Homo sapiens: one gene and its partners. The protein of the gene in region 3 purifies or fractionates together with the protein of the main gene of each other region. This does not show direct contact. Each region holds a gene or a part of one and is shown on either strand. Other genes may lie near its edges.

Region 1 (3,653 bases), on a different chromosome or scaffold from region 3:
GTCCTTGGTGTTATATGTCACTGGGCTATACAAACCTTCCCCATTTAAAAGCGATTCCTTCACAAAACTGGCAAACTGTTACAGGCTGTTATAATAAAGCACTTTATATTTACTCCCTGAGTTTTAGCTTCCACACTCTTGTTTTAAGTTGTTTGCTTTATAAGTGGTTTCTTTTTTTAAAAGGGTTTTATTATGAATAAGAGACTCGCAATAATTTGCAAAGATAGTACAGAAAGGCCCCATATAATCTTCATCTGAGTTACTTCAATCATTGCATTTTACATAATTATAATACAATATCAAAACCAGGAAATTGATACTGGAATGATACGTGTGTATAATTCTATGTTATTTTATGATGTGTAGATTTGTTTAACCATTATCGCAATCAAGAAATATTCCATCTCTCCTGTGCTACCTCTTTATAGTCACACCCACCACCTACCCCCACCATTGATAACCCCTGAAAAATACTAATTTGTTCTCCTTTTCTATAACTGTCATTTTAAGAATTTTATATATAATTAAAATGATTTAATTTTTAGAATCATAAAGTATGTGACCTTTTCCACTATTTTTCACTCAGCATAATACATTTGAGACTCATTCAAATTGGTATCAATAGTTCATTCCCTCTTATTGCTGAGAAATATTACACGACATGGAGGTACCACAGTTTTTTTAACCATTCATCTATTAAGGGACATTTTTAAATGTCCAGTTTTTGGCTATTACGAAGAGAACTCTTATTAACATTGAGTACAGTGTTTTGTGTAGATGGAAATTTTCATCTCTCTGAGATAAATGCCCAGGAGAGCAATTACAAGGTGGGACGGTAAATATATGTTTAATTTTAAAAGAATCTGACAAACTAGTTTTCCAAAGTGACTGTACCATTTTGTATTCTCACCAGCAATGGTATGAGAGATCCAGTATCTCCACATCCTTTCCAGCATTTGGTATTCTCACTATTTTTTTTTTAAGTTTTAGCCATTGTGATAAGTGTGTAGTGATATATTACTGATTTAATTTGCATTTATCTGATGGCTAATAAAGTTCAACATCTTTTCATGTGTTTATTTGTCATCCCCATATCTTCTTCATTTAAATATCTCTTTATATCTTTGGCCCATTTTCTAATTGTATTGTATTGTTTGTTTTACTGTTGAGTTTTCAGAGTGCTTTATGTATTCTAGATACCAGTTCTTTGTCAGATATGTAGCTTGCAAATATTCTCTTCCAGTCTGTGGCTTGTCTTTTCATCTTAATAGGATTTTCCACAGAGAAAGAGCTTTTAATTTTGATGACATTCAACTTATTGATTTTTTTCCCTATTATAGATTGTGCTTTTGTTGTTACATCTAAGAAGTCTTCACCAAGTCGTAGGTCTCAAATATTTTCTCCTAGATTTTCTTCTGAAAATGTTATAGTTTTACATTTTACATTCAAGTCCATGATCCATTTTAAGTTAATATTTGGCATAAAATGTGAAGTTTAGGTCAAGGTTAATTTTTTTGGATTATTGATATCTAGTTACTTCAGCTCCATTGAATTGCTTTTGCACTGTTGTAAAATATAAGTATGCCGTACTTGTGTATATCTATTTCTGAGTTTTCTAATCTGATTCATTGATCTACGTATGTGTCCCTCTGCCATACCACACAGTGTTGAATACTGTAGCTCTATAATAAATCTTAAAATTTGATAGAGTGATTCCTCCTAGTTTATTGTTTTCAATATTGCCTGTTCCTTTAACTTTCCCTATAAATTTTAGAATAAACTTGCCTATATCTGAAAAAAGTTAGCTGAGATATTGATAGGAATTGTATTAGACCTGTGTATCAGTTTGGGGAAAACTGACATCTTTACTATGCTGAGTCTTCCAATCCATGAGCACCATATGTCTCTCCCTTTATTTAGATCTTCTTTTATTTATTTTATCAGCACTGTTCAATTTTCAGCATAGAAATCTTGTATGTTTTGTTAGAATTATACATAACCATTTCATTTTTGGAGTGACTATTAATGGTATTTTATTTTGAATTTTGGTTTCCATGTATTCATTGCTAGTATATAGAAATATAAATGATTTTTGTATGATAGTTTTGCATATTGAAACCTTGCTGAATTCACTGATTAGTTCTAGGGGGTTAAAAGGTATTTTTCTAATTTTTTTTCTTTTGTTTTCATTGTTTTTTAGGACTTTCTATGTAGACCATCTTGTCATCTGCAGAGAGGGACAGTGATATTTCTTCCTTTCCACTCTGTGTTTTATGTTGAATAGCAGTGGTGAGAGCTAAATTCTTGTCTTGTTCCCAGTCTTAGGGAAGAAGAGGTCAGTCTTTCAGCATCAACTATAATGTAGTTTTTTTTGAAGTTTAGATCGTTCCCTCTTGATTTCTAGTTGTCTGAGTGTTTTTATCATGAATAACTATTGAATTTTGCCAAATACTTTTTGCATCAATTGATATGATCTTGTGATTTTTCTTCTTCAGTTTGCTAATGCAGTGGATTACACTAATTTATTTTCAAATGTTGAGCTAGCCTTGCATCCTTGGATAAAACACATTTGGATGCGATGTATAATTTATATGTTATATTTGCTCATATTTGCTGGGGATATTTGCTTCTATTCATGAATGATATTGGCTTGCAATTTAATTTTTTGGTACTGTCTTTGTCTGATTTTGGTATCAGTGCAATATTGGCCTTATAATAAGAGTTGGGAAGTAGTCCCTCCTCTTCTATTTTCTAGAAGACATTGTGTAATATGAGTGTTAATTCTTCTTTAAGTATTTGGTAGAATGCTGCAGTGAAATCATTCAGGCCCAGATGGTTTCAATGAAGAATTTTTTTTTTTGAGTTTTAAAATTATATGTTCAATTTTCTTAATAGTTACCAAGCTATTCAAATTATCTAATTTCTATTGAGTTGTGGTGGTTTGTGCTTTTCAAGGAATTTATCCAGCTTATCAAAATTATCAACTTTATACATGCATATTTGTTTGTAGTAATCCCTTTTGGTGTCTGCAAGGTCTATAATAATATCTCCTGTTTCATTCCTGATATTAATGATTTGTGGCCTATCTTTTTTATTTGTCAGTTTTGCTTAAGGTTTGTGAATTTTATGAGGCTTTTCAGAGAACTACCTCTTTGTTTCATTGATGTTGTCTGTTGATTTTGAGTTTTCAATTTCATTGACTTCTGCTCTTTATCTCCTTACTTCTGCTTGCTTTCAGTTTAATTTGCTCTTACTTTTCTAGTTCCTTAGGGTGGGAAATTAGATTATTAATTTCAGACATTTCTTCTTCCCTAAGTTAAGCCTTTAGTGCAATGAATTTCCATCTCAGCACTGCTTTAGCTGCATGTCATGTATTTTTTTTATCACAGTAAAAAACCATAGCAGGAGATTTAGTTCTTAACAAACTTTAAAGTGTACAGTACAATATTGTTAACTATAAGCACAATGTTGTACAGCAGATCTCTAGAAATTTTTCATCTTGAATGACTGAAACTCTATGCTTATTGAGCAGCAACTCCCCATTTCCCACCCCCCACCAACCCCCTGGCAACTACTATTTTCCTTTCTGTTTCTATGAACATAACTAATTTAGATATATAAGTGGAATCATGCAGTATTTACCCTTCTGTGTC
Region 2 (3,653 bases), on a different chromosome or scaffold from region 3:
ATTGAAAGGTTCTGTGCTTAATATATTGACTATACGTTTAAATATATATAGTCTAATGTCTTTCAATGATAAACAAATATAGAAACCATTCCTTAAATAACATGTCTGGACAATTTAAGCAGTTGACTTAAAATTGGAGAGTAGTTGAGTACATTTCATCAAAGTAACTAAATCTTTTTTGGTCTACAAACCAAAAAGCTGACTCAAACCACTGATTTAAAAATTACTAACATCATCTTTATTTAATAAATGACTTCTTGCATAAACAGAGTAATTCAAATCTGAGCGTTCTGAGCTACTTACTACAAATTAGAATTTTGTAGAGAAAGAGACAAGAGACAAATCTCATCATTTCCAACACTGACTCATTATTATACATTAATCTAACCAACCATGCAATTGCTAACACAGTAGGATTCATAACAAAAAGAGCATGGCAATGATACTGGTGTCTAGTTTGCTAAAACACTAAATAAAACAATATAAAATGCTGCTTTCTGTACTACAGACTCTCTGAAGCATCATTTGTTTCCACTGTACAGCCAAGGCCTCAGGCCCCAAAATATTCCACACCTGACATGAAATGAAATATAAACACAATCTTGTCCCTCAGGAACCCAGCATTCCCAATGTGTTTTACAGTTATCAATGTGTATTCTCTAATCCAACGATCTGGGGGTGTGGCATCTATTACCACTGTATGCACTGTATGTGAGGTTAACCATACAAAAGATTCTCTTCCTCCAGGCATTCTATCAATAATTTGTATATTTAGCACAAGTATTACGTGGGATGCAAAATCACCTTATAAGTCATAAAGTGTTACTTCCAATTCTTCTTAGGTGAATGAGGGTATGGCGGCATGGACCAACTGGCATGGCTTTCCCAAGTCATGGATAACCAAGACAAGACAAGAATACAGGCTAACATTTAATCCCTTACACAATTTTGGCATGAAAAGCCTTGCTATTTAAAAGAACGTGAATGCTTCCTTTCTTTGAATGACGCTTTCTGTATTTCTTCTTTTTCTATGTTCAGAAACACTGAATTTCCGGCAAAGAAAGGCAGATTTTTCCCAGCTTCCCTATGCCCATATCCATATGGGCTAACAGGATGCTTTGTCTGTTGATATGAATAAGCCTGATAGCTTTTCCTAGTTAAAATGTTATCTCCAGAAGCTGTTTTCTGTGTCACTACAACTGCCTACCTACAAAACCTTGCTTTTATGTAACAATTGCTCCCTCTTATCAGAGTGCTCAGAATTAATCATCCACCTCAGTAGTTTGTAGCTCATTTTCCAGTTGTTTAATTTTGTATGCTTTTCCCGACCTAAATATCTTTAAAATCCTGGGGGGAAAAACAGTTTTTGAAAAAGCATATAATGGATTCTTCACAGAGAACCTGAGGCATTTCTTTAAAACTTCAAAAACTTCCTCTGTTGGATGCTGAGGTTAAAATACAATAAAACCTCAAAAAGTATGTCATATAATCCAGTTTTAATCACACACAAACACATACATACATAAACATATGTATTTATGCCAAGAGAGATGTTTGAAACAAAATACAATAAAAGTATAAAAAGTTTCTATCTTCAGTTTATAGGATTATTGGTGATTTTTCTTTTTATATTCTTTTGAATTCTATCATTCAACAAAAAAATTTCTATAATTTCATAAATAACTCACAGCTATATCCAGAAAAGAGCCAATAATTCTTGTCTTAAACCACAAAACACAAATAGTCCACTTCTGAATACTCCAAGCTTAACTATGCAGCCTGTAGATCATTTCTGGTCCTGCCTCTTGTTCTTACTAAAATTTGGTTATTTTACTGTTCACTTGCATCTCAACTAGAAATTGAATAGGGCGGAGATAAAAAGAGATGAAATGCAAATTAACATCTTTTCTACTTTAAAGCAGATTCACAGAAAGTTATTTCTCAAAAGAGAATGCACAAAATTTCAGCCAAAATAAGTTTTCAAATTATTTTATTAACCTCCTGTAAACTAGACAGACTTCACTTTACCCATATCATATATACTGATAGCTCAACATTTTTCCTACTTCCACTTCTTGGGATGTTCACAAATTTAAGAATTCTAGAGAGACTTAAGCGTAAGGCCTGAGACTATAAACCTCCTGGAAGGAAACAGGGGAAAAGCTCCCCAACGTCGCTCTGGGCAGACTTTTTCTATAAACCTCCTGGAAGGAAACAGGGGAAAAGCTCCCCAACGTCGCTCTGGGCAATGGCTTTTTCTATGAACCTCCTGGAAGGAAACAGGGGAAAAGCTCCCTAACGTCGCTCTGGGCAATGACTTTTTCTATAAACCTCCTGGAAGGAAACAGGGGAAAAGCTCCCTAACGTTGCTCTGGGCAATGACTTTTTCTATAAACCTCCTGGAAGGAAACAGGGGAAAAGCTCCCCAACGTTGCTCTGGGTAATGACTTTTTCTATAAACCTACTGGAAGAAGACAGGGGAAAAGCTCCCTAACGTCGCTCTGGGCAATGGCTTCTTCTATAAACCTCCTGGAAGAAGACAGGGGAAAAGCTCCCTAACGTCGCTCTGGGCAATGGCTTTTTCTATAAACCTCCTGGAAGGAAACAGGGGAAAAGCTCCCTAACGTCGCTCTGGGCAATGGCTTTTTCTATAAACCTCCTGGAAGAAGACAGGGGAAAAGCTCCCTAACGTCGCTCTGCGCAATGGCTTTTTCTATAAACCTCCTGGAAGAAGACAGGGGAAAAGCTCCCTAACGTCGCTCTGGGCAATGACTTTTTCTATAAACCTCCTGGAAGGAGACAGGGGAAAAGCTCCCCAACGTCGCTCTGGGCAATGACTTTTTCCATAAACCTCCCGGAAGGAGACAGGGGAAAAGCTCCCCAACGTCGCTCTGGGCAATGACTTTTTCTATAAACCTCCCGGAAGGAAACAGGGGAAAAGCTCCCCAACGTCGCTCTGGGCAATGGCTTTTTCTATAAACCTCCTGGAAGGAAACAGGGGAAAAGCTCCCCAACGTCGCTTTGGGCAATGACTTTTTCTATAAACCTCCTGGAAGGAAACAGGGGAAAAGCTCCCCAACGTCGCTCTGGGCAATGACTTTTTCTATAAACCTCCTGGAAGGAAACAGGGGAAAAGCTCCCCAACGTCGCTCTGGGCAATGACTTTTTCTATAAACCTCCTGGAAGGAAACAGGGGGAAAGCTCCCCAACGTTGCTCTGGGCAATGACTTTTTCTATAAACCTCCTGGAAGGAAACAGGGGGAAAGCTCCCCAACGTCGCTCTGGGCAATGACTTTTTCTATAAACCTCCTGGAAGGAAACAGGGGAAAAGCTCCCTAACGTTGCTCTGGGCAATGGCTTTTTCGATGTGACCCTAAGGACAGGCAACAAAAGCAAGAGACACACAGGATTACATCCAACCCAAGGCTGTTGCATAGCAAAGGAAACAGCAGAGTGAAGAGATGACCTATGGAGTGGAGGAAGATACCTGCACAACATACATACGATAAGAGATTCATGTCCAAAGTAGATAAGGAACTCAAACAACTCAACAGTAAGAAAAGAAAACAAATGTTCTGATCAAAATATAGACAAAGGGCCTGAGTGGACATTTTTCAAAAGAAGACATACATGTGGCCAATAGGTATGTGAAA
Region 3 (3,753 bases):
TGTGCTAGGTCCTGGGGTTAAGGAAAAGAAATGAACAAAGCAAATCCCTGCCCTGGAGGAAGCTCACATTTAAGTGGGGATGACAGATCTGTAAGCAAAGACAGTTCACTGTGGTGAGGTGGTGTGGCTAAAAGCATGGTTAAAAGGGTTAAAAGTGAGGGCTCTGTGCTCAATACAGGCTCAGCCCCAGCCCCACCACTTAGGCAGTGTCTGAGCTTTGGTTTCTACATTTATAAATGGGAATAAAAATGGGAATAAAGATACGATTTCTTCAATTAGATCATGAGGACTTACTACGGTAAGCGAAGTTAAGCGTTTAGTACACTGCCAGCTGTAGAGCAATAGAGCAAGTGCTTCGTCAGACCTAGCTACTATAGTAAGTGTGGTCATCCCTTATGAGATCTATGGGAGCACAGAGGAAGGAGTCTGTCACTCCTGCTTAGACGATGTGTGGCTCCTCAGGAGCTGAGTCTTAAAGGAGGGTAGGAGTGGTTGAGGGCATTCCCTTCACAGTGAGCAGAGGGAACACAGGGTGTCCAGGATAGTCATGGGCATGGTTGTCATATGAGAAATGACAGTGTACGGGGCAGCAGAGGTGACCAGGGGCCCCATTATCACGGGCCTCATAAACCATGCCAGGTGTCTGACCTTCTAGAAATATCAGAAAACTGACGGAGCTTAAAGAGGAAAAGGATGTAAATCTGCATTTCTTTTTTGTTGTTGCAGTTGAAAGATAAGCCATTTATTGACCATCCACTTTTCAAATAAAACACAAATGTGAGCATAACATAAACACACCCAAGACTCACTAGCCCCTGCAAGACAGGAAGCATTCTTGGACAGAGAGTCTGCAAATGAGTTTCCTTATACCTAATGTCTGAACTTCTCACTCATTCTAGGGTTTCATGCTTTGTTATCTCTTACAAAGGAAAGGAAACTGGCTAGAAGATTCATGTACAAGAAGGTCACAACTTCAAAGCTATCTGACACTAATGTTGTGTACAATCTAGTTTGCAACTCTGAGAGACAATATCAAATAAGTACTGTCAAATATTCCTCCCAGTTAACCTTTACTGTCATTGTTCTTTGAAATTGTCTTTGGGATTGGTTATGTTCTCTCGCTGTAGCTTTCGTTTATCTCAGAGCACAAACCCTAAAATCCATGTGCAGTCTCCATGTTCAAGTATAGATGTCTGTTTCAGGACAATCCTGGGTCGCGGTAGTGTTTCCCTCTCTGTAGTGTGTGTTTGGTGTCATGCCCTTGGAAAGGCTGGCCAAATGGCAGCGCAATGCAGGAGGGTGCCACGGTCAACTTTCTCTCTGGCGAACTTGCTTCCCTTTCAATCTGGTCACTGCTCATGGTCGAGGTGGAAATCTTGAGCTCAGTGATGAACTTGGCTTATCTTCAATCTGAAACTGCACTCTTATGTAACCGAATCCATTTCTTCACCAAAAATTAAATAGCGCTTTCAAAAGCTGTCAGGCATATTCTTAGGAAGTGTCCTGAGACGGAGCTGGAGGGTCCTGGCCTTCTGGCTCTGGAGGGAGTGCTGGCACAGCTGCTTCTTTCTGGGCCACCAGGAATTCATGAATTATTTGTTCTATTTGTGGCCTGAAGATGTGGTTTAGTTTTGGATCCACCACCTGAGAACTAATCCTGTCCACTCCAGCTTCTGACCTCCCTGACTGAACCACACTCTGCCTCAGACCATCGTGCAGTTGGTTGTCGTTTGCTGGAGGATTCCATTCCTGCTTGTCCAGATGTGTCGACACAAAATTATCCGCTTTCTGGCTCAGGTTTTGGTAAGCTGGCTTGGTGTCCACGTCAGCCTTGCAGTCCCGGCGGAAGCTGTCAAAAAGGCCCCTGCTCTTGAGCTGCCCCACGATGATAGCGATGAGCTGAGGGTCGCCAGGGGGCAACGAGGCCGGGTTGATGGGGCCGCCGCCCCCGCTGGCCCGGGTCGAGGCCGGGCCCGCACCGCCGCTGCCGCCGCCGCCACCGTCCGCCATGGCTGCGCACCGGGCCCACAAGGAAACCGATTATAGCTTCTTCTCCAGGACAGAAAGCCTAGAATGTGTAGAGGTGGCTAAGGGGGCGGTGAAGGAGGAGGGCCCCAAGGAGGCAGCGGCGGAGGTGACGGTGGTGGTGATGGCGGCGGGGCCGGTGGTTGGGGCGGCGGTGGGGGAGGCCAGCTCCAGACCGCGGAGGTTGTGGAAGACGCGGCAGCAACCGCCTGCTGGATTCCAAGCGCGCTCCAGATGGCGTCACCGTTGACCTTTGCATTGTGAGGCGGGAACCGTAATCTGCATTTCTTAAAAGATCTCTAAGAGGGAGGTGGGAAACAAATGCCAGTGGGCAAGGGCGAAACAGGGAGACAATTTCAGCAACCATTTCAGTGCCCTAAGAAGGAGATGGCGAGGAGTGAATGATCTTCGTGGCCTGGCAGGTGAAGAAGGTAACAGGGATACAAGAGATATTTAGGAGATAGACTCATCCCAGGGATTGGAGAACAACGGGGTGAGGGACGAGGGAAAGGAGAGGGTCAAGGATGACCCCCAGGCTTCTCACTTGGGCAGGTGCATGGAGGTGCCATTTACTAAATGGAGAACAGGTATAGAGGTGAGGATGGGAGACAGAGACATGATCGTGCATTCCATTTTTATTTACTAGTTTAAGATGGGTATGGGTTATTCAGATGCAGACATCTGCCTATGAAGTCCAAAGATACAAGGACTAGGGGCTGGGGAGAGACATCTAACTCACTGAAGGTAGAGACTATAGGTGGCAATTACAATGGAGAACTTAGAAGAGATAGAGGAACACCTGGAGAGCCCATGAGGGGGACTGAGAACAACACTAAAAAGATGGAGGGAAAACTACAAAAGCCTTGGATCATAGACCGCAAAAGGTACATTTCATGAAGGCCATGGGTGAAATGCCACACTATGTTCCACAAGGTGTCCATTGGCTTTGGTAGCCATTGATGAGCCTAGGGCAGATGTGTCAGTCAGAAGGAGGTCATTTCAACAAGAGAACTGTATTGCAACCAAGAGCCACAAAAGGCAACCACATCCAGCGCCATCCAATAGAGAAGTGCAGGTGCACAGAAAGAACCTTCTATCAATATTTCAAAAGAAAAGCAGATCCCTGATTTCACCCCAACACTCACTTCCCTGAATTAAAATGCCCCTGAGATGTAGACACCACATTGTTCTATAAGCCGTAACATAGCTTAAAGGTAGTATATTTCACAAAGAAAGTTTACACAACAGACTCTGTCAATAACCTCACCCCATAGCTTCTGACATACAAGTACAGATGCCTCAGATGGACGTATTCTGAATCTCATCCCACAGGAGACAGTGAACCTACCAAGACTTCACCACAGCAACCCCCTACCTATGCTCCTCACCATCCCCATGATCAGCTCGACAATTCAGTTCTGTATTTTTTTAAATTAATCAATATTTATTGAGGGACTAGTCGATGTGGCCCTGTGCTAAGCTTTATGGAGCTCTCCACGTGCCTGGCCCAGTCTAACACTCAATAAATGTTTGCTGTGGCTGTTGTTTAAGACAGGCAACATGGCCAGCCTTTGAAAAGCTTACAATCTAGTTGGAGAGGGGAGATGTTGACAGAGAAAACCATTGAGGACATACACAAGCTCCATGGGAACTTAGATGCAACATGCACACCTAGCATGGTGCCTGGAACAAAAGAGAGGCACCATTAATATTTGCAGAATAAAGATT

The links.
Region 1: the proteins of BOD1L2 (region 3) and ATG4A purify together in Homo sapiens (affinity purification with mass spectrometry; one large-scale study listed by BioGRID and IntAct). This does not show direct contact.
Region 2: the proteins of BOD1L2 (region 3) and DCP1B purify together in Homo sapiens (affinity purification with mass spectrometry; one large-scale study listed by BioGRID and IntAct). This does not show direct contact.

The regions. Positions count from the first base shown.
Region 1 is NC_000023.11:108,098,194-108,101,846, forward strand, and holds part of ATG4A (cysteine protease ATG4A), read left to right. Parts: intron 1-3,653. UniProt on the Homo sapiens protein: Cysteine protease that plays a key role in autophagy by mediating both proteolytic activation and delipidation of ATG8 family proteins.
Region 2 is NC_000012.12:1,955,832-1,959,484, forward strand, and holds part of DCP1B (mRNA-decapping enzyme 1B), read right to left. Parts: intron 1-3,653. UniProt on the Homo sapiens protein: May play a role in the degradation of mRNAs, both in normal mRNA turnover and in nonsense-mediated mRNA decay. May remove the 7-methyl guanine cap structure from mRNA molecules, yielding a 5'-phosphorylated mRNA fragment and 7m-GDP.
Region 3 is NC_000018.10:57,145,570-57,149,322, reverse strand, and holds the start of BOD1L2 (biorientation of chromosomes in cell division protein 1-like 2), read right to left. Parts: upstream 2,237-3,753; 5' UTR 2,011-2,236; coding exon 1,492-2,010; 3' UTR 1-1,491. UniProt on the Homo sapiens protein: May play a role in proper chromosome biorientation through the detection or correction of syntelic attachments in mitotic spindles.